Regions from separate parts of the Homo sapiens genome. Here region 1 is linked to region 2. The links come from fine-mapping of genetic effects on gene expression. A gene starts in region 2. The other region holds a variant in brackets. All regions are shown on one strand. Distances are between the middles of the regions.

The links. PIP is the estimated chance that this variant, and not a neighbour inherited with it, causes the effect.
Region 1: its variant is fine-mapped to the expression of TLR3 in blood mononuclear cells (TOPMed, PIP above 0.99).

Annotation. Positions count from the first base shown.
Region 1 is chr4:186,199,409-186,208,276 of GRCh38, forward strand. It overlaps CYP4V2 (cytochrome P450 family 4 subfamily V member 2), which reads left to right. Exons shown (of 11, transcript NM_207352.4): 7 at 1,749-1,934; 8 at 5,792-5,894. Among named protein-coding and RNA genes, the nearest start is that of CYP4V2, 12 kb to the left of the region's middle. RefSeq lists an enhancer at 2,489-2,538. The variant C/T (reference allele first, on the strand shown) is at 4,962.
Region 2 is chr4:186,062,588-186,074,130 of GRCh38, forward strand. TLR3 (toll like receptor 3) reads left to right here and starts at 6,569. Exons shown (of 5, transcript NM_003265.3): 1 at 6,569-6,661.

The DNA of each region.
Region 1 (8,868 bases), 140 kb after region 2:
GTGCTAACCACCATACCAAATGTTGGAAATGTAGTAATGAGTAGGACATGTGTATATGGTCCGTACCTGAAAGGAAGTTATTCTAGTAGGAGAGGTGATCTATCAACACATAATTACAACATGTGATATGAGCTGTGAACACTTATGAACAAACAGGGTGCTGTGTAAAAGAATAAAGGAACAAAGATCTATGTATAGGAGTTTTCTGGAAAATGTTTGGATTCGGCAGTCATTTTCAAAGGCAGAGGGCATTGATAGCAGTATCTTAACATGGAAAACATTAAAACTAACTAGATATTAGTATTCTATTTCCAATTCAAAAATAACCAGAAGATAGTGATGTTGTTTTGAATATAGGATGTCAATCTTTGTGTTAATAATGTGTTTTGAAAAAGCAAGACTTAATTGAAAATATACATCAAATTATAATTTCAGTGTATTAAAAAACTGCCTGTTTAAATATGTCCTTTCTTTGCTGTAAATTTTGGTTAAAATCTATTGGAGTTATGTCCTTGTGGTGAAGTACACCCTACCCCCAAGAGAGCAAATGATGAATAAATCAGTAGATGTTCCATGAATGCAATGTTGGCTGAGCTGGCCACAGTGGAGTGTGATCACCTGGTTATAGGAGAATAGCCAGCAGGTTATATTTCATAATTATATTTTTCCTTAAATTTTGTGCATTAATATTTAATAGCAATAATTAAATGAATTCCAGACTGAATAGACAATTTTATTCATTGAATAAACATTGAGAATTGCCTACTGAGGCCTGGGCTCTAGGAATTCCACCAAGAATAAAAAAAGACATGGTGTTTTGCCCTCAAATTGCTTAGAATCTATTCAGGCCACTTAGTAGCAGGTTTGGTCAATTACCTGGTAGGAAAAGAAGGTTGAAATGTACAACCAAATTAAGTGTATTGGCCTTCATTCTTTTATCCATCCAAGAAATATCTAGTGAGTATTTGTTAAATGCCAAGCAGTGCTCTAGAGGTTGGAAATGTATCAATGAACAAAGACATGCACAAGCATGGCAGTGTTTGAGTTGTAAGAGAAAGATGCTAAATAATAAGTATAACGTAAGTATAATATCACATTATAATAATAAGTATGACAGAAGTATCACATAATGTCAGGTGGCAAGGGAAATGGAGAAAAAGCATTGTTAGGAGGCGTCGCAGTGCTAGGGACAGGGGTAGCAGGGATGAGGGAGGTCTCTCTGATCGTGTGACAATGAGCAGAGATCTGGAAGAAGGGAGGGGGCAGCCGTGCAGGCCTCTGAGGAAAGCATTTCAGGCAGCAGAAATCGCAAGCATAGAGGGTGAATTCACTAATCTGCTTGCTGTTTCTTTTCTCCTCTACAACATGTAATTAAGTCTATAATTAGACTGTTGTATAATGATTGCATTCACTCTACCACTTAAACTTTTTCTCATTAGCGCAATCCAATCTCTAGGGTACTATCTAGTAGACTATGATTCTATTCTTGTGTTGGAAAGACTGCAAAAATAGCACTTGAAAATTAGGAATTTGCGTGACATTAAATTTGTTTTTAAAAGTTTCACCAGATAATCCCCAAAATATTAATGAGGCTTTACTGTATTTTCACAAGAGCCTATGTTGTCGAAATGTTGAAATAGGCTTAGAAAAATAAATGAAAGAAACTAGCATATTTTATAAGAAAATGTGTTAACTAGGGTGCATCCAAGTCCAAACAGAAGCATGTGATTATCATTCAAATCATACAGGTCATCGCTGAACGGGCCAATGAAATGAACGCCAATGAAGACTGTAGAGGTGATGGCAGGGGCTCTGCCCCCTCCAAAAATAAACGCAGGGCCTTTCTTGACTTGCTTTTAAGTGTGACTGATGACGAAGGGAACAGGCTAAGTCATGAAGATATTCGAGAAGAAGTTGACACCTTCATGTTTGAGGTATTGTATATTGTTAGGTTCAGATATCATTAAACAAATTTCAGTTATTGTTAGAATCTTTAGCATTATTTTTTAAAACAATCAAATTTTAAAGTAGTTTAACTAAAGAAGATTCATTATATTTTAATTAGAAATTACAAAATTTAAGAAACTGATTAAGTACCAGCTCAACTTCTTCAGAAAACGATTTTGACTAGTGCTGGGCACAGCAGTAGACACATTTGTTTTTCCTCAAGAAAACCTAAGATTTGTCAGAGTTTTCCCAAGCAGAAGAGCAGCCAGAGATTGCTCTCAGTTCTCCATGTGGCTTCAGGCTTCCTTCTAACCTCCCAGACATGCAAGTCCACTTCCTCACCACCTGCTTTCTGAGGTTCCAGCAGATGAGCACTTAGCTGCTGCCATGAGCTACTCTACCTAGAGGACAGTTAAGAGCCCTCCAACAGAGAATCAGCCAGTTCATGATTCTAAAAAGATCTCTGATCTCAAATTTATACATACATATGTGAAGTACATTTTAGCAAGATAGCCTAAATATTAAATCCTACAAAGAGGGACTTTCTCTATATGTGGATTGCAAAATAAATAAAACATGGTTTTTAGAAGCCATGTAGTAATATCGTCCACATGGGGCAGAGTGAAAGGCACCTGAGTTTTTAATGGCTCTGCCTGCCACCCACGTGTGAGCTGCTCTGCGGCAGCCTCTGGCGGCAGTGCCAGTGTCCTGCACTCTGGTGTGAGGCTCCACGACACGGTAGAAGAAGGTTGTGTGATGGGTCTTTCGATCCGAGTTCCAGTTCAGGCTCTGTGCTGATTAGCCAAATAAGATAGTTCTGATCATTCCAGAGTTCTGTCACAATTTTCCTATGTGTAAAGCGAGAGATGGACTACGTTGGTGGTTTTAAACTTTTTTAAGCAGAAAACTTTACTGAAAATAAATCTTAAGCAGAAAATGGACATCTAAATTAGCTGAAAAGTAGAGAGGTGTTAAGTGTGTGGGCTCTAAGATCAAATCCCAGCTAACATGCTGGGACCATGACCTCAAGCACCTCACCTAGCCGTTCTGGGCCTGAATATTCTTATTTTAATAGCACAAGCCTCATGGAATAGTTATGATGATTAGATTTGTAAAGGTGCTCTGAGAATCGTGATTGGCCCATAAGTATGCGGCACATACCGGGTGTTATTATTGCATGTCGGAGTAGAGAGATCTCACATCTTCACCTTGCCCATGTACTACACACACACACGCATACACTCATGTAAACCCATGCACACACATGCACACACTTACACACACACATATGCTCATGCACATACACATGCACAGACACATGTATATACCAACATACACACATTCACATATACACACATACACAAACACATGCACACACCTACATACACTCATGCACATACATGCACACACAAACATATGTATATCCACATGCGCACACACGTGCATACACTCACACACAAATATACACACACACCCAGATACTCATGCACATACACACACATGCACACATATACCCACATGCACACATGCATGCATACACATGCATGCACACATATACCCACATGCACACATGCATGCATACACATACATGCACACACCACCCCCCACAGAGGCACACATTCATGTACATTTATGCAATCATACAAAAACACATGTACACACCTACATACACACATGCGCATATACACATACATAGATGCACATATATACACACATGCACACATAAATGCACACAGCTATGTACACTCGTGTACATAAGCACAAAGGCACACACAAATACATGTACATATCCACGTACACACATTCATATATGTGCACAACCCCATACACATATGTACACACATGTGCACACACACATCCATCTCCTACCAGGAACCTCTCAATCTCACGTAAACAATCAGAACCAGACTAATGATTTTTCTTCCAACTCTAACATTCCTTGACATTCTAATTGTTTTCTTCTTTGCATTGAAAGGGAGGCAGCATACCAGGTGTGAGTGTGATACTGTGGCCTCCTCCACAGGTCGGTGCAGGCTGTGAGTGACACTGTGGCCTCCTCCACAGGCCGGTGCAGGCTGTGAGTGTGATACTGTGGCCTCCTCCACAGGCTGGTGCAGGCTGCAACTGCCCAGGTTCCAGCTGTGAGCTAAAAGTGGGCGTCCTCCCCTGCTCCACCAGTGTGCCTCGGTGCTTTACGTTTGCCTTATCATGCTTTCTGCAGTTGGCAGATGAAATGAAATCGGAAGTTCAGCAGACTCCTCTTATGCATTTGGATCAGGCTTCCGCTCATAAATTCAAGGAAAGCTATTAAAATTGTTTAGCCAGAATACTTCCTTCCGTACTTAGACAACTGAGCACAACGGGCCGGAGCTCATCTGGAGTTCCGAGTAGGTTTTGTAACTGCAAGTGCTAGGAAAATGCAGAGGCGCCGACCTCAGGACCTGTAGGCTGTGTCTTTTAAGAATTGCAGAATAAGCCCCGAGCAATTCATTTTAGGAGCTGTTTTATAAAACAAGTACTTTGAAGATTTCTGCACAGAGAATGAAATATTACAAAAATCACTTGTGCCACATAGGAAAAATGGAAAAGTGAGATCTTTTATAGAGGAAATAATTTGTTTTTTCTTTTTGTCCTCAAAGTTTCAGAGAGGTAGATTACTGTTATTGACTTTCCAGATACATTTTTTTTTTTTCTGAAGAACTCACCACTTTTGCATATGGAAATGTGCTAGGGAGATGAGGAGGTAGATAAGAAGCCAGGTCCTGAAATATCAAATGGGTGGGAAAGAAGGTTGCCCGAGACATTACACTAGCTTAAGAGGTGGAGGCGGAGACGTTACGCTACCGCTAAGAGGTGGAGGTGGAGACGTTACGCTGGCGTAAGAGGTGGCGGTGGAGACGCTACGCTGGCGTAAGACGCGGCGGTGGAGACGCTACGCTGGCGTAAGAGGCGGCGGTGGAGACGCTACGCTGGCGTAAGAGGCGGCGGTGGAGGCGCTACGCTGGCGTAAGAGG[C/T]GGCGGTGGAGGCGCTACGCTGGCGTAAGAGGTGGCGGTGGAGACGTTTCGCTGGCGTAAGAGGTGGAGGTGGAGACGTTACGCTGGCGTAAGAGGTGGAGGTGGAGCGTCCTTACTGCACAGGGTGTGGAGGGAATGGCGTGGGCTCAGCTGGCTTTGTCATCGGACACGCCGCAGGCTCAGTTTCTGCCTCTGTTTCCCACTAAGCTGTTTAGCACAGAAGAAGTTATTTAACCACATCTTTGGCCTCAGTTTTTAATCTCTGAATTGTAAAGAACAGTAATGAGTCTTTCATGGAGTTTTTGTGCAGATTAATTCAGTTTCTGCAAAGTGCTTAGTATTTTGCCTAAAACTCAGCAAGTATGAAATGAGGTTGTTGTCAATTTTTACTGCAGAGGATATGACTTAGAACCACACCTCTACCCCCTGGTGCCCGTCATCAACAGGTGAGGCCCACCTGACAGATGGGGGAAGGCAGAGAAGTACAGCCCTGACAAGCAGGCTCGTGAAAATCAGACTTTGTTCTGTTCACAAAGGCGCAGCTCACCTCGTGCCCATGGAACGCCGCCTTTATTAACACAGCACAGGCACGTCCCACCAGCGTGCAACACCGTGCGGCGTGGAACTGCCATCTCTAGGCATGAACCTCCGCTTTGCAGGCTTGTTTCCTTGTTTGTCACCGAGGCAAGGTGCTGCACAGAATTCATTTCTTATGTTTGCAGTCACAGTGCAGTCATCAAATCCAGAGACAATTCAAAAGAGGTTTCTGGTCACTCCTAATCATCGCAGCATAACTCTGCTTTTTAAGCTATTGTTTTCTGCATTTGTAGGGGCACGATACAACTGCAGCTGCAATAAACTGGTCCTTATACCTGTTGGGTTCTAACCCAGAAGTCCAGAAAAAAGTGGATCATGAATTGGATGACGTGTTTGGTATGTTTGGCCCCTTCACTGGTTATATTGTGGTACTAAGTCTGCTGCAGAGATGTCACTGTGTTGTAAACACAGTGTAATGAGCAGGAAGGCTCCCCCACGGGATCCTTTCCAGTACCATCCCCTTTGCAAGGCCTCGTCCATTCACTCACAGGCCTCTGCCAGTCGCCTGGCAAGTGACTGTACTAGGCCGGATGCTGGGGTGCACTGATGCGTGCTGCTGTCCTCAAGGGTCTCACTGCTACCCAGGCGAAACAGAGGCTTTGAGTCATGGGTCGTGCATTTGAGTGAAGAAGGTGCTATTTGGGAGAAAGGAGGAGCTGGTGAAACTATTTAGAAAGGTACAGGAAAGCTGTTTCGCAGATTGCCTCTCACCACAAAGGAGAGAAAATGTGGATTAAAAAGGTGGATTAAGCTTCGAGGAGATACATTTCTATTACACAGCAAGCAGCCCGGAGGAAAAGTCCTGCCAGTAGGATGTCCAGGGTCCCAGACTTGCCCTTTTGCTCCCAGCCATCCCTACCATCTTGGCTTTTGTCCTCATGATTGACGTTCCAAGCATCACGTTCATCTTCAAGGCAGGAAGACAGGGGAGGTGGGGGTACCGGGTGTGTTGGTGTCCTGTGGCTGCTGCTGTGACAAATCCACAGACAGGGAGGTTCACAGCAGCGACGTCTGTTCCCTCACAGTTCTGGACACCCGAGTCAAAGATCAGTGTCATTGAGCCCACATCACCATGTGGGCAGGGCTGTGGCCCACTGGGAAAATATCCACTCCTTGTCTCTTCAGCTTCCGGTGGCTGCCAGCATTTCTTGGCTGACAGCCGCATCACTGCTATCTCTGCCAGTCTCTGCATCGCCTTCTCTTTTCTCTGGGTGTGAGTGTGTGCACGCACGTGCATGCATGTGTGGTGTGTGTGTGTGTGCATGTGTGTGCTTGTGTGTCTTTCACAAGCATACTTGTGACATACTTGTGATGGCGTTCAGGGCTCACCTGGATAATCTACCCACTGTAAGATCTTTAATTTAATCAAATCTGCCAAGAGTTCTCTTCTTCCAAATAGGGTAACATTTACAGATTGCAGGGATTAAGACCTGATATTTTGGGGCCCATTATCAGTCTGCCACAAAGAGGCTTCCATAGATTTTATCCTTGTTAAAAATCACGTGTCATATGGCCCCCAATAGCTGCAAGGTGAAAAGGAATAAAGTTGAGTTAGCCAAGCAACAAGTGGTATCTGATGCAGTTTTACAGTGAGAAGCAGGGAAAGAAAACTAAAGGAATAAAGCTGGAGAGAGAAGGCATTCTAGAAAGAGAGGAAGCAGATGAGCAACGGCACAGAAGTGGAAAGGTTTCTGGCATGGAGGGCAATAGTGGAGAGTGAGAGACCGCGAGAACTCATCTCTCATTCACTGGGAGATGAGGATGGAAAAGCAGTTTTGTGTGCAGATTGTGCTGGGACTGGAATTTCATATTAAGAGGCAAGCTTTTATTTTGCAGAATGGACACCATCTAACACTTTTGGCAACATTTTTGTCATCATTTTATCTTTTTAACACTGATTTTAGTTTTGCTTAGATTGCCTTGAGTGGATAAATTTGGTCTTCCAAAAGCTCACAAGTTCTTTTGGAATAGGCTTCAATCTTTTGTATCCCCTACAAAGTTTAGCTCATTACCAGTTTCACAAAGCTTTGTGGTCCTGCAGAATGAGTGACACAGTCATCATTACTAGAAGCTTTGCTCTGTGATTCTTGTGTTTTCTGCTCATTGTGCCTCACTTTTTCTTCTACCCCCAATCCTAGTTCTAGAATTTTTGAGCAACTAAGCTGGGCTCGGTGGCTCACGCCTGTAATCCCAGCACTTTGGGAGGCCGAGGTGGGCGGATCACGAGGTCAGGAGATCGAGACCATCCTGGCTAACACAGTGAAACCCTGTCTCTATTAAAAATACAAAAAAATTAGCCGGGCATGGTGGCAGGTGCCTGTAGTCCCAGCTACTCGGGAGGCTGAGGCAGGAGAATGACATGAACCCCTCAGGGGGCGGAGCTTACAGTGAGCAGAGATTGCACCACTGCATTCCAGCCTGGGCAGCAGAGCAAGACTCTGTCTCCAAAAAAAAAAAAAGAAAGAAAGAAAGAAAAAAACATTTGAGCAACTATTCTTTGTGTAGTGAGTTATTACTTTGCATTATTAATTAATAATTAATTATTAAATTATATTTATATTAAAAATTATATAATATATAAAATATATTAAAATATATAAAAATATTAAATAATTAATAATTAATACTTTGCAAGTATTAATTCCTTAAATGTTATTTTTTTTTTTACTGAGGTAAATGTCACATAACATAAAATCTACCATTTTAAAATGTACATTTCAGCAGCATTTAGTACCTTCACCATGTTGTACGATAGTTATGTCTACCTAATTCCGGAACATTTTCAGCACCTCGAAAGGAAACCTGGTAGGATTAAGCAGTCCCTCTTGATTCCTCCTTCCCCTGGCCCTGGAAGCCTGTGATTTACTTTCTGTCTCTCTGGATTTACCTATTCCGAGTACTTCCTATATATGGATTCGTACAATATGTGACCTTTAGTGTCTGTTTATTTTACTTGGCACATTGTCCATTTTATTTTGATAATGCATAATGTTAGAAATTCTGCTTTAGCTGTGGCTATTTAGCATCCCCTGCCTTGATCCACATGTTCTTCTTTGATGGGTATTTAGCATCCCCTGCCTTGATCCACGTGTTCTTCTTTGAAGGGTATTTGATGGATATTTAGCATCCAGTACCTTGATCCACGTGTTCTTCTTTGAAGGGTATTTGATGGGTATTTAGCATCCAGTACCTTGATCCACATGTTCTTCTTTGATGGGTATTTGATGGGTATTTAGCATCCCCTGCCTTGATCCACATGTTCTTCTTTGAAGGGTATTTGATGCGTATTTGATGGGTATTTAGCATCCCC
Region 2 (11,543 bases):
ATACAGATAAAGGTTACTCTTAGGTGAAAAGCAAGAGGCATGTTCAAAAGCAACAGCATCCCTTCCAACTCTGGGCTTTCTTTTAATTTCTCCTGTTGATTTAAAATTTGCATTATAAAATGGAGGTCAATTTGCATGATCATAAACTCTCCAATAACCAATTCAATCGGATTATGGTAAGTTATGGCTTGCTTTTGATACTTCAGACTTCCTTCTGTGATCACTTAGAAGTTTTGTCAGACATTTGTGTTTCCATTTATTAGAAGCCTAGTGGATTTAATTAGGATATTTTAAATGGAGGATGATAGTGAAGTTGTATCTATAATTTTACTTTTGATTTTAATAAATAAATATTGAATTCAGGGCCTAGGGACTGAACAGCCGTGTCATAACATTGTTAATAAAGGAGAGACCCCATTCACCTAAATCCATTTCATAGATTTATAAGAAACAACAAGATGTTACCACTTTTCTATTTTTGCTTGTGTTGCGTGGGTTTTTGGTGTCATATCCAAAAAAATCACTGGCCAAGGCCAATGTCAAGAAGCTTTTTCCTCTGTGTTTCTTCTAAGAGTTTTACAGTTTCACATCTCATGTTTAGGTATTTAAACTAATTTGAGTGGATTTTTTGTGTATGGTGTAAGACAGGGTTCAATTTTATTCTTTTGCATATGGATACTGAGCTTTCCAACACCATTTACTGGAGAGACTATCCTGTCCTCTGTTGTGTGTTCTTGGCAGCCCTGTCAAAGAACTTGACCATCTATGCATGGGTTTATTTATGGGCTCTCTAGTCTGTTCCATTAGTCTGTTTTTAAGCCAGTACCATACTGTCTCGATTACTGTAGCCTTGTCACATACTTTGAAATCAGGACATTTTATGCCTTCAGCTTTGTTCTTGCTCAAGATTGCTTTGGCTATTTGGGGTCTTTTGTGGTTTCAAATACATTTTAGGAAAATTTTCTATTTCTATAAAAATGCCATTGAGATTTTGATAGAGATTATGTTTGAATGTGTAGGCCACTTTGAGTAGTATGGACATTTTAATAATATTAATTCTTCTAATCCATGAACACAGGATGTCTTTACATTTACTTGTGTCTGTTTTAATGTCTTCCATCAATGTTTTATAGTTTTCAGTGTTCAAGTCTTTCACTTCTTTAAGTTTTTTCTTAAGTATTTTATTCTTTTCAATGCTATTGCCTTCACAATAGCTAAAACATGGAAGCAACCTATATGCCCATTGATGGATGAATGGATAAAGAAAATATGGCATACACATACAATGGAATATTATTCTACCTTACAAAAGGAAGTTCTGCCATTTGTGACGACATGGATGAACCCAGAGAATGTTACGCTGAGTGAAATAAGCCAGATGCAGAAGGACAGAAGGATGCTACATGATATCATTTATATGATGAATCTGGAATAGTCAAACTCATAGAAGGAGGGAGTGACATGGTGGCTGTCAGGGGCTGGGAGGAGGCATAAACAGAGAGGTATTAGTCAAAGGGCACCAAGTCCAGCTTATACAATATGAGTAAGCCCTAGAGATCTACTGTACAGTTTAGTGCCTATAGTTAACAATGCTGTATTATATATTTAAAAATTTGCCAAAAAGGTAATTTCATGTTGTGATATATCACAAAAATAATAATAAATGAATAGAATAAAGGGAAACTTTTGGAAGTGATGGATATGTTTATGGTATGGATTGTGGTGATGGTTTCACAGAAGTATACTTGTCTTCAAGCTCATCAAGTTATATATATTAAATATTCACAGCTTTTTGTATATCGATCATACCTCGATAGAGTGGCTTAAAATGAAGGAATAAAACAGTGCATATCTCATGACATTAAAAAAAAAGTATCACTTTCAACTACCTTGTAAAATTACAAAAAATACAATAAATAAATAAAAGTTTAGGTTAGGCTGGGCGCGGTGGCTCACGCCTGTAATCCCAGCACTTTGAGAGGCCGAGGTGAGTGGATCACAAGATCAGGAGATCGAGACCACCTTGGCTAACATGGTGAAACCCCGTTTCTACTAAAAATACAAAAATTGGCCAGGTGTGGTGGCAGGGACCTGTAGTGCCAGCTACTCAGGAGGCTGAGGCAGGAATTGTTTGAACCGGGAAGGCAGAGGTTGCAGTGAGCTGAGATCGTGCCAGTGCACTCCAGCCTGAGAGACAGAGTGAGACTCCACCTCAAAAAAAAAAAAAAAAAAAAAAAAAAAGTTTAGATTAAACCAGAAGCTCTCTGTGGCAAACATTGGTTTCTTTTTCAGAGGGGAAATTCAACTTCAATACTGCTCAGTGGACATGAGCGAGAGTAGGGAGAGGGACATTTGTTATTTTCTCTCTTAAAGTTGTTGCTGGGGTCTTTGGTTGAGCCTAGTTCAAACTAGCGAAAGCTCAGTGAGCAGAAATAGAAGTGACACTGGTAAGAGGAACTGTATCTTCACTTTAGAGAAAGGATTCAGAAAGAAAAGAAATGCTTCCTAGAATTTCAGCCAATACAGATCAGAACCATGTCCTTTCTGAATGGGGGCTGTGAAGGGACCAGTTGAGTGCAGTTCACAATGACTGTCTATCTGGTGCTCTCAGGGAATTTAACCATTTGTTTAGGTTCATAATATATTCATCGCATTACATACCCATGAGAAGTTTGAATGATGAAAAGGTCTAGCCTTACTTTGGCTTCCTGCCAACCCAGAGAACATTGGTTGGTCCAATCTCCTTGTTCCTATTCTTAAAAAGTAAACTGATACTAATGGCACAATATATGTTATTTGGGTGATGAATACCCTAAAGACCCTGACTCCATCACTATGCAATCTACGCATGGAACAAAATGGCACTAGTACTCCCATAAATCTATACAAATAAAAAAGTAAACTGAGGCACAATACAGTTTTACAGTGCTTCTGAACCAGCAATGATTCATGAACCAGAAGTGGTTGGGGAGCTCCACCAAGGGAACACAAGAGAAGGCTTTTTCAGGACAGAGACAGAAGTAGAGCAAAGACAGCGCTTGACTGTTTACAGTTATACAGCTACCTTATTTGGTCTATCTCATTGGAAAGTCCTTAGTTATATAAGTTTGTTGGCTGCTTCTGATTGGTTGTGTTTACGTTTTCTTTAATATAGGCATTTACAAGATATAGTGCTCAAGTTATTATGTTTGCGTATGTCACTTATGTTTGCAGATCAAGCAAGGTCGAGGTCGCTTATGAGCCCTTGCTGGTTTGGTATGTTCATGGATTCTTCTGGCCTGGTCTCCATTTTAATGTACTTTAACACCATGAATAAAGGTTTACTTCTGAGACTCTAAGAGCCCGTTTAAATTAAACCTATGCATGATATTGCCTCAAATACCCAACAGCTCACTCATAATTGGATATTCATTGCTGGCACAAATGTTAAGTATTACTGAGCAATTAGTTCTCTCTATATTTGGCCCTCACAGAGTGTAATTATTGTATTGTTCAGTACTAATCTGCCTTTTCACATACATGCATTGAGAGGAGAGTCTTCTGTTTGCCCCACAATTTCAATTCTCTATATTTGTGGTTAGAAACTGCGGTGACACAATCCTCATGTCTAAATTCATTCATTCGGGAGATTGTAAAGATGGTTCCGTAAAGCCTCAGTATTGTAGGTGCTGATAATGATGATAATGAAAATGATAAACTTTCCCTTATAAATCTTATAATGAATTGACTAGACTGCCTACAGACTATACACTATCTTTGTCTATAGGTAAAATGGTTGTAATTGGCCGGGCGCAGTGGCTCACGCCTGTAATCACAGCACTTTGGGAGGCCAAGGTGGGTGGATCACGAGGTAAGGAGATCGAGACCATCCTGGCTAACACGGTGAAACCTCGTCTCTACCAAAAATACAAAAAATTAGCCGGGCGTCGTGGCACGTGCCTGTAGTCCCAGCTAGCTACTCTGGAGGCTGAGGCAGGAGAATTACTTGAACCCGGTAGGCGGAGCTTGCAGTGAGCTGAGATCGCGCCACTGAATTACAGCCTGGGTGACAGAGCAAGACTCTGTCTCAGGAAAAAAAAGATTAAAAAAAATAAAAACGGCTGTTTTATTAAGAATTGTTATTAGGAACGGGCAGAGAAGAACAGTGTCTGTGTAGTTCAGCATGTGAGTGGTAATTTGCTAATTATATCTGGCTTGTCACTCCGGTCTCTGTAACTTGCTGTGTTTTGTCAAGTGATTCTTCCAGAAATTTTGTGTATATTATCTTACTAAACTCTCATTAAAGAGGCCCCTCAAATGGAAGAAGGGAACTTAGAGTTTTTAGAATGTGAATAAATTTAAGGGACTTTGGCTTCTAGAATTCTGTAGATCTCTGTTTTGCTGGGAATATACAGCTTCCCATTATTCTGAGATTGGCTGATCTGTAATGCTGTGAAATATCAGTGTTTACTAAATTTGTTATTTTACATTTATGGGCATACATTTTTTTTTAATTCTCTCTCTCTCTTTTTTTGAGACAGGGTCTCCCTCTGTTACCCAGGCTGGAGTGCAGTGGCGCACTCATGACTCAATGCAAACTTGAATTTGCCTGGACTCAAGTGATCCTCCCACCTCAGCCTCCCAAGTAGCTGAGACTATAGGCATGCACCAACATGCCCAGCTAATTTTTGTAATTTTTGTAGAGATGGAGTTTTACCACGTTGCCCAGGTTGGTCTTGAACTCCTAGGCTCAAGCAATCTCCTAAAGTGTTGGGATTACAGGCATGATCCACTGCTCCCAGCCTTAATTCTTTTAAAAAGGGGAAAAATGAGGTTTTTCACTATTGCTCCAATCACCATCATAGCTAAATAAGTTAATGCACATAGTTAAGAAATGTACAGTAGAGAGAAAACAATCTGTGTTGTATTTAGAAACTAGCAAGAATTAAGGACTAATAATATCTGAATATGAACTGGTATTAAGCCCAAACTACTGCATCAGGAGACCATCAATAAAATTTATTTATCGAGAGCCATTCATTAGTCAACCAAAGTCGTGGGAAATTTAATCTGTATAAGGAGTCATAAGGCATAAGGGATAGGTATGAAGGATTGTTGAGATGATGTGTTTTATTTCGCTAATAATGCATATGACACCATTCCAATTTTTTTAAATTTAAAACAACAATCATTTATTTGCTTGCTTCTCAAGCCTGGGTAATCGTGTTTGGCAATGAGACCTTGTTGCATGCTTGCTAATATCCCACTGGTCAAAGCTAGTCAAATGGCCAAGCCTAGAGTCAGCGTGGGAGAAGGCCACACAAGGGTTTGAATTCTGAGGACGAGTCTCTTTCATTGAAGGCCAAAGAAACAGTCTACCTCAGAGGGTTGCTGGGGAGCTATAATGCAAAGAATAAACCTCACCCTGCCTTCAAGGCGCTCACAGAGAAGAAATCTTTTGAATATTAGTGAAGTTTTCCTGGACATCCCAATGGATAGATGTGAGGGACAGTCACGTACTCAGGACATCTGTTTGCTTATGGTGTTATGTTACAGATGTCACAAATGAAAATCAGAGACATGTAGCCCTGAGCCCAGTAACTATAAAGCGGTCTAGCTGAAGCTGGAGCCCACAAGAGGGCACTTTGCACCATGATGCACGCTTGTTTCTTGCCATCAGCTCTGCAATGAGTTCAAGCTAATGCCATGTCCCAGCCGTCCAGTTGTTTTATGACTTGTGTGATTGAAGCATATGGTGGCTTGTGGCATGTTCTTAGGCAAACCACTCACCTCCCTAGGTTTCGTTTTCCTAATTTCTCAAACAAGGGAGTTAGATTAGGTGGTCTATAGTTCCTTCCAATTGTGATATTTCACTATATAACAATATAGTTATAATAGATCATAGCACATCTGTAATGAAAAAAAGTGAGTTCATTTCTTAACAAGTACATTTACTTAACTAGTTGGAGTCATTAAAGCAAATTAAGAACGAAATTCTTAGTTAATCTGAACTTTTCTGGGCATACTGATCTGTTCCCTAACGCGTCTGACCGTGGAAAAGTGGATCAGCAGGAGTGGGACTGGCTCTCAGCTTTGCCATGTTTGGCTCTTTCTCTGCTGTGAAACTCAGTTTCTTCCTGGATCAAGAGGTTAATTTCTGCCGGTGTTATTTTACAGTGTTGCAAAGAGATAAAAGCCAGACGAAAGAAGGGAAAGTACTTCAGCTTTGATTAGGGATTTTTTTTTCTGTCCCTGTGACCATACACTACTCAATTCTGACAGCTTCGCATGAGTCTAGCAGAAAATTGAGGGATTCACTGTTATTCCTTAACTTGCAGAGGTCCAGACCCGCCCACATCAAATGGTGAGGTCCCCACTTTCAACTTTAGCTGTTGCTAAATCTGTGACCCTTTCAATGAAATCCAAGGATCTCAGCTTAAAAAAAGTTAAAATAAAATAAAAACTAGGTGTTTTTCAGAGGCGGTTTGAAACGCCTCTCTGAGGTTGTCAGAGATTGTTTTTGTTTTCTCCCTTTGCCCTTCTTGGAATGCACCAAACATAAAAGCATTTTTTTTCAAGCTTTACTTTCACTTTCGAGAGTGCCGTCTATTTGCCACACACTTCCCTGATGAAATGTCTGGATTTGGACTAAAGAAAAAAGGAAAGGCTAGCAGTCATCCAAGTAAGTGAAGGTGTTCATTTCACGTTCTTACTGGGCAGGGTCTCTCTTGCTGAGTAGAGTTTGCTAGCAGAATGCATGTGGTTTTAGCCTTCTTTGGTCTTTCTTTGATCTGGTGCTTGAAATCTAGTCAGAATTATTCAGGAAGGAAAGTGGAAGAAAAGGGATATGATATGGGCATGGGAGAAGGGTATAACTCAGAACACAAGTAATAGCACCAATATCTAGTTAATGTGATAATGTATTTATGCAGTATTTAATTTTTTTCTCTGTAGCATTCTGTACCTGGAAAAAACACATTAGGGAAGCTATGGAAATCATTTTGCAACAGTCTTTTTAGCAAATCACATCTTTGCCTTAAAGAAACAAAACTCCAAGAGGTTAAAAGAGCGTATCCCCTTTTGTTAGTTTTATTGGCTGGAGGGGAGACAGGAGCTGGCATTGTATGACAATGTCTTAGATAGGAGAGAACATTCAGGTATGCCTAGGAGTAAGTAAATGGCTTTCTTTCACCTAATGAAGGATAATGGAAGAAGTGGAGAAGTGGAAAGTTGTTAAGGTGTATGGGAAGATCAGAAACTGGTATCGGCAATTGTGGGGTACTCGGGTAAAAATGGAGTTGGCTTCAGCAAGTTGATTCCCAGGTTTACAGATGATTACGTGCTGGTATGTGTCTTCATATGGGCGTGCCTGTGTATGAACCTACTACAAAGGTTGCAAAGTTTACAAATCAAACTATGGATAGTGGTTAACTCCAGGTAGTCTGCCTCCAGACCCCATGTCCTAACCATCAGGCAATATTGTCTCTCACTTGGACAAAGAATGTGAATTCCATGTGCCCTCACAAAATATTTCCAAAATTCTAAGGCTGAGTGAGTCTCTTTTTAATTTTTTTTCATTTTCTTTATTTCTGCTAGATCTCATTCAACAGCAACGTTTTCTTCACTCTCATTTCATCCTTTAACTGCATTTTTGCTTGTTTTACTGAAGCATGTCCTAGAATAACCTTTTCATACAGATCGTATGGCTATAAACTTACTGAATTTTTGCATATCTCAAAATACTTATACCTTTTTATTTAGTTATTCAGATGGATGTGAAATTTCCCTATCTTATTTTATTTTATTTTATTTCATTTTATTTCATTTATCGATTTAGAGACAAGGTCTCGCTGTGTTGCCCAGGCTGAAGTACAGTGGCATGATCGTGGCTCACTGCAGCCTTGACCTCCCTGGCTCAAGCAATTCTCACACCTCAGTGTCACGAGTAGCTGGGACCACAGGTGTGAACCACTATGGCCAGCTAATTTAAAAAAAAATTTTGGTGGAGATGAGGTTTCCCTGTGTTGCCCAGGCTGGTCCCAAACTCCTAGGCTCAAGGGATCCTCCAGCCTCAGCTTCCTAAAGTGATGGGATTACAGGCATGAGCCACAGGTAATTTTCTTGGCCTGGTCAAAGGTAATTTTCTTGTTTTTTAGAGGTAAGGTCTTGCTCTGTTGCCCAGGCTGGAGTGCAGTGGTGTGATCATGATTCATTGCAGCCTTAACCTCCTGGGCTCAAGCGATCCTCCTGCCTCAGCCTCCCAAGTAGCTGGAACTACAGGCTTGTGCCACCACACTTGGCTACTTTCTAAAATATTTTTGTAGATACGGGGTCTCACTATGTTGCCCAGGCTGGTGTTGAGCTCCTGATCTCCTTCTGCCTACACCTTCTAAAGTGCCGGGATTGTGGGGATGAGCCACTATGCTTTGCCTGGATATGAAATTTTAAATTCAAAATAATTTTCTCTAAATGTTTGGAAAGCTTATCTCTATTGTTTTCCAGTGGTTCATGTTACTGATGAAAAGTTTTTTATTAATCAAGATCTCTTTTCTTTGGAAATGAAGGTTTTAGGATTTTTGTGTGCATGGTTGCAATTCTGAAATTTCATAGGAGTCTCTCCAAGTTTGTTCCTCTTTCACTCCTCCTGCCTAGCATTTGGTGAGTTTTGCCCACTGATGAAATGTCTTCAGATGGGGCAAGTCCTTAAGTCATTCAGGGATATGCTTTGTAATGGATTAGTCCTTCTCAGCAATTCTGACCTATAGCAGGAGCCCTACCAGAGGGGTACATCTCACCTAAGCAAGGAGAATGTATTGTAGGGACCTTACCTATGAGTTGGTAAATAGAGATAGGAAGTTCTGAAGGAACTGGAAGAGAGGTTTGGGACACTCTCAGAGAGGGGGCAGGTGGGGAGCTGGTCCCCAGCATTTGAGAGGTATCATTGCCAGCCCTGCATCCTTCACGTGCCTGGGCAAGTCAGCAAATGCATCCTTGCTGGCCTAGCTGTGGCATTCCTCATGGCCTGTGGATATAAAGAATGTGCACAGCTTTACAATGATTAGTGCCAGAGTTGTAAAGGCCATGAGATGGGAATATTAGTTTATGGAAGCCAGTTTTTTTTGTTGTTTTTTCTGTTTCTGAGAACTAAATTAGAATATTAGTAAAATCGCTATTTTTAAGTATATTAGAACAATTCTATATACTCACATTAGTTCTGTTTTCCTAGGATTAGTCACCTAAGGTGATTTTATTACCTGACACTTACCTGGAATAATTTTCATGTCATGACTTTTAGATCTTGTGGAATATCTATTTAGATATCATTACCACTGCTTCATCTCCATACCTTGTGGGTGTATTTGATTTTTTAAAATATCTGAAATTTGGTTGTTGATCACACCACAGAGTATCACACTGGGTACACATCCCACCAAAATAAAGTGTGACAATGTATGGAGTTGAGTGGCTTTCCTGAGCTGACTAAATGCCCATGGAAAGCTATTGTATGAGTGCATTCTCACATTGCTCTACAGAAATACCTGAGACTGGTCATTTATAAAGAAAGAGGTTCAATTGGCTGATGGTTCTGCAAGTGGTGCAGGCAGCATAGCAGCCTCTGCTTCTGGAGGAGCCTCAAGGAGCTTTCACCCACCACAGAAGGCAAAGCCAGAGCTGGCACCTTCACATAGCCGGAGCAGGAAGAAGAGAGAAGGGGAAGGTGCCACACACTTTTATTTTTTTATTATTTATTTTGGGGGGAGTGGGGGCGAAGTCTCACTTTGTCACCCAGGCTGGAGTGCATGTGGTGGGATCTCGGCTCACTGCAGCCTCCGCTTCCCTAGTTCAAGCGATTCTCCTGCCTCGGCCTTCCCAGTAGCTGGGATTACAGGCACCCACCACCACACCCAGCTAATTTTTGTATTTAGTAGAGACACGGTTACACCATGTTGGCCAGGCTGGTCTCAAACTCCTGACCTCAGGTGATCTGCCCACCTTGGCCTCCCAAGTGCTGGGGTTACAGGCGTGAGCCACTGCGCCCAACCACCACACACTTTTAAACGACCGAATCTCATAAGAATTCACTCACTCACTATCGGGAGAACAGCACCGAGGGGGTGGTGCTGAACCATCTGTGAGAACTCTGCCCCATGAGCCAGTCACCTCCCACCAGCCCCCACCTCCAACACTGGGAATTACAATTCAACGTGTGGTGTGGGTGGAGACGCAGAGGCAAACCATATCGGCTATGTATTCAACATATATTTATTTCTTCAGAGCCAACAAAGTGCCAGGTCTTGTTCTAGGCACAGACAACACCGTATGGAATAAGAACTATGTCCTCTACTATTATAGCTTCACATTCTAGTGAGAAGCAATAATTAATAATAAATAATACACAATATTGGATAATTTCCATCAACCATAGCAACGGAAAAGGCAATCTAGAAGAAGAGCAAGATGGGAGGTTTCGCTCACTGAACTTCAAGACTTGTTGTAAAGCTAAAGTAATCCGAACAATGTGGTATTGGCCTAAGAACTAACAAATATTTCAGTGGAAGAGAGTAGACAGCCCAGAAATAGACCCTCGCTTAAAACATTTACTCGGTTTCTAAGGAAAGCACAGAACAATCCGGTGGGGGAAAGAAGTCTCTTTAAAAAATGGTCTGACTGGACCAGGCGTGGTGGCTCACCCCTATAATCCCAGCACTTTGGGAGGCCGAGGTGGATGGATTACCTGAGGTCAGGAGTTCAAGACCAGCCTGGCCAACATGGTGAAACCCTGTCTCTACTACAAATATAAAAATTAGCCAGGCATGGTGGCGCGTGCCTGTAGTCCCAGCTACTCGGGAGCCTGAGGCAGGAGAATCACTTGAACCCAGGAGGTGGAGACTGCAGTGAGCCAAGATGGCACCACTGCACTCCAGCCTGGGTGACAGAGTGAGACTCCATCTCAAAAAAAAAACAAAAAACAAGATCTGACTGACTGGATATACACACAAAAAACCATGACTCCTACTTCATGCATACACAACAATTAACTTAGGAGAGGTCACACACCTTCACATAGAAGCTAACACCATAAAGCTTTTTAGAGGAGAGTATCTAAGTAATGGGAGTAGGAAAATTTCTTAGAGGAGACACAGAAATGATAAAAATAAAAGAGAAGATGATAAACTAGATTTCATCATAATTAAGAAGACATCAGTAAGAAAATAAATAGGCAACTCACACACTGGGAATAAATATTTACAAAATAGGAATCTGACGAAGGACTGACACTCAGATACATAAAAAATTCCTACAACACAATAATAAACAGGAAACAATCTAATAGATGAGCAAAATATTTGAACATATAAGGGAAGATAAATGAACAATAAGCACATGAAAATTGTTAAATATCGTTAGTCGGCAGGGAAATGCAAATGAAAACCATAATTAGCTATCACTATATGTTCAGCAGAATGATTAAAAATAATAATAAAAATAGGTACCAAATGTTGTCAGGAAAGTTGGTGGTGCAACACTTTCCCAAAGGATCTGGCAGTTTCCTGTAAAACCAA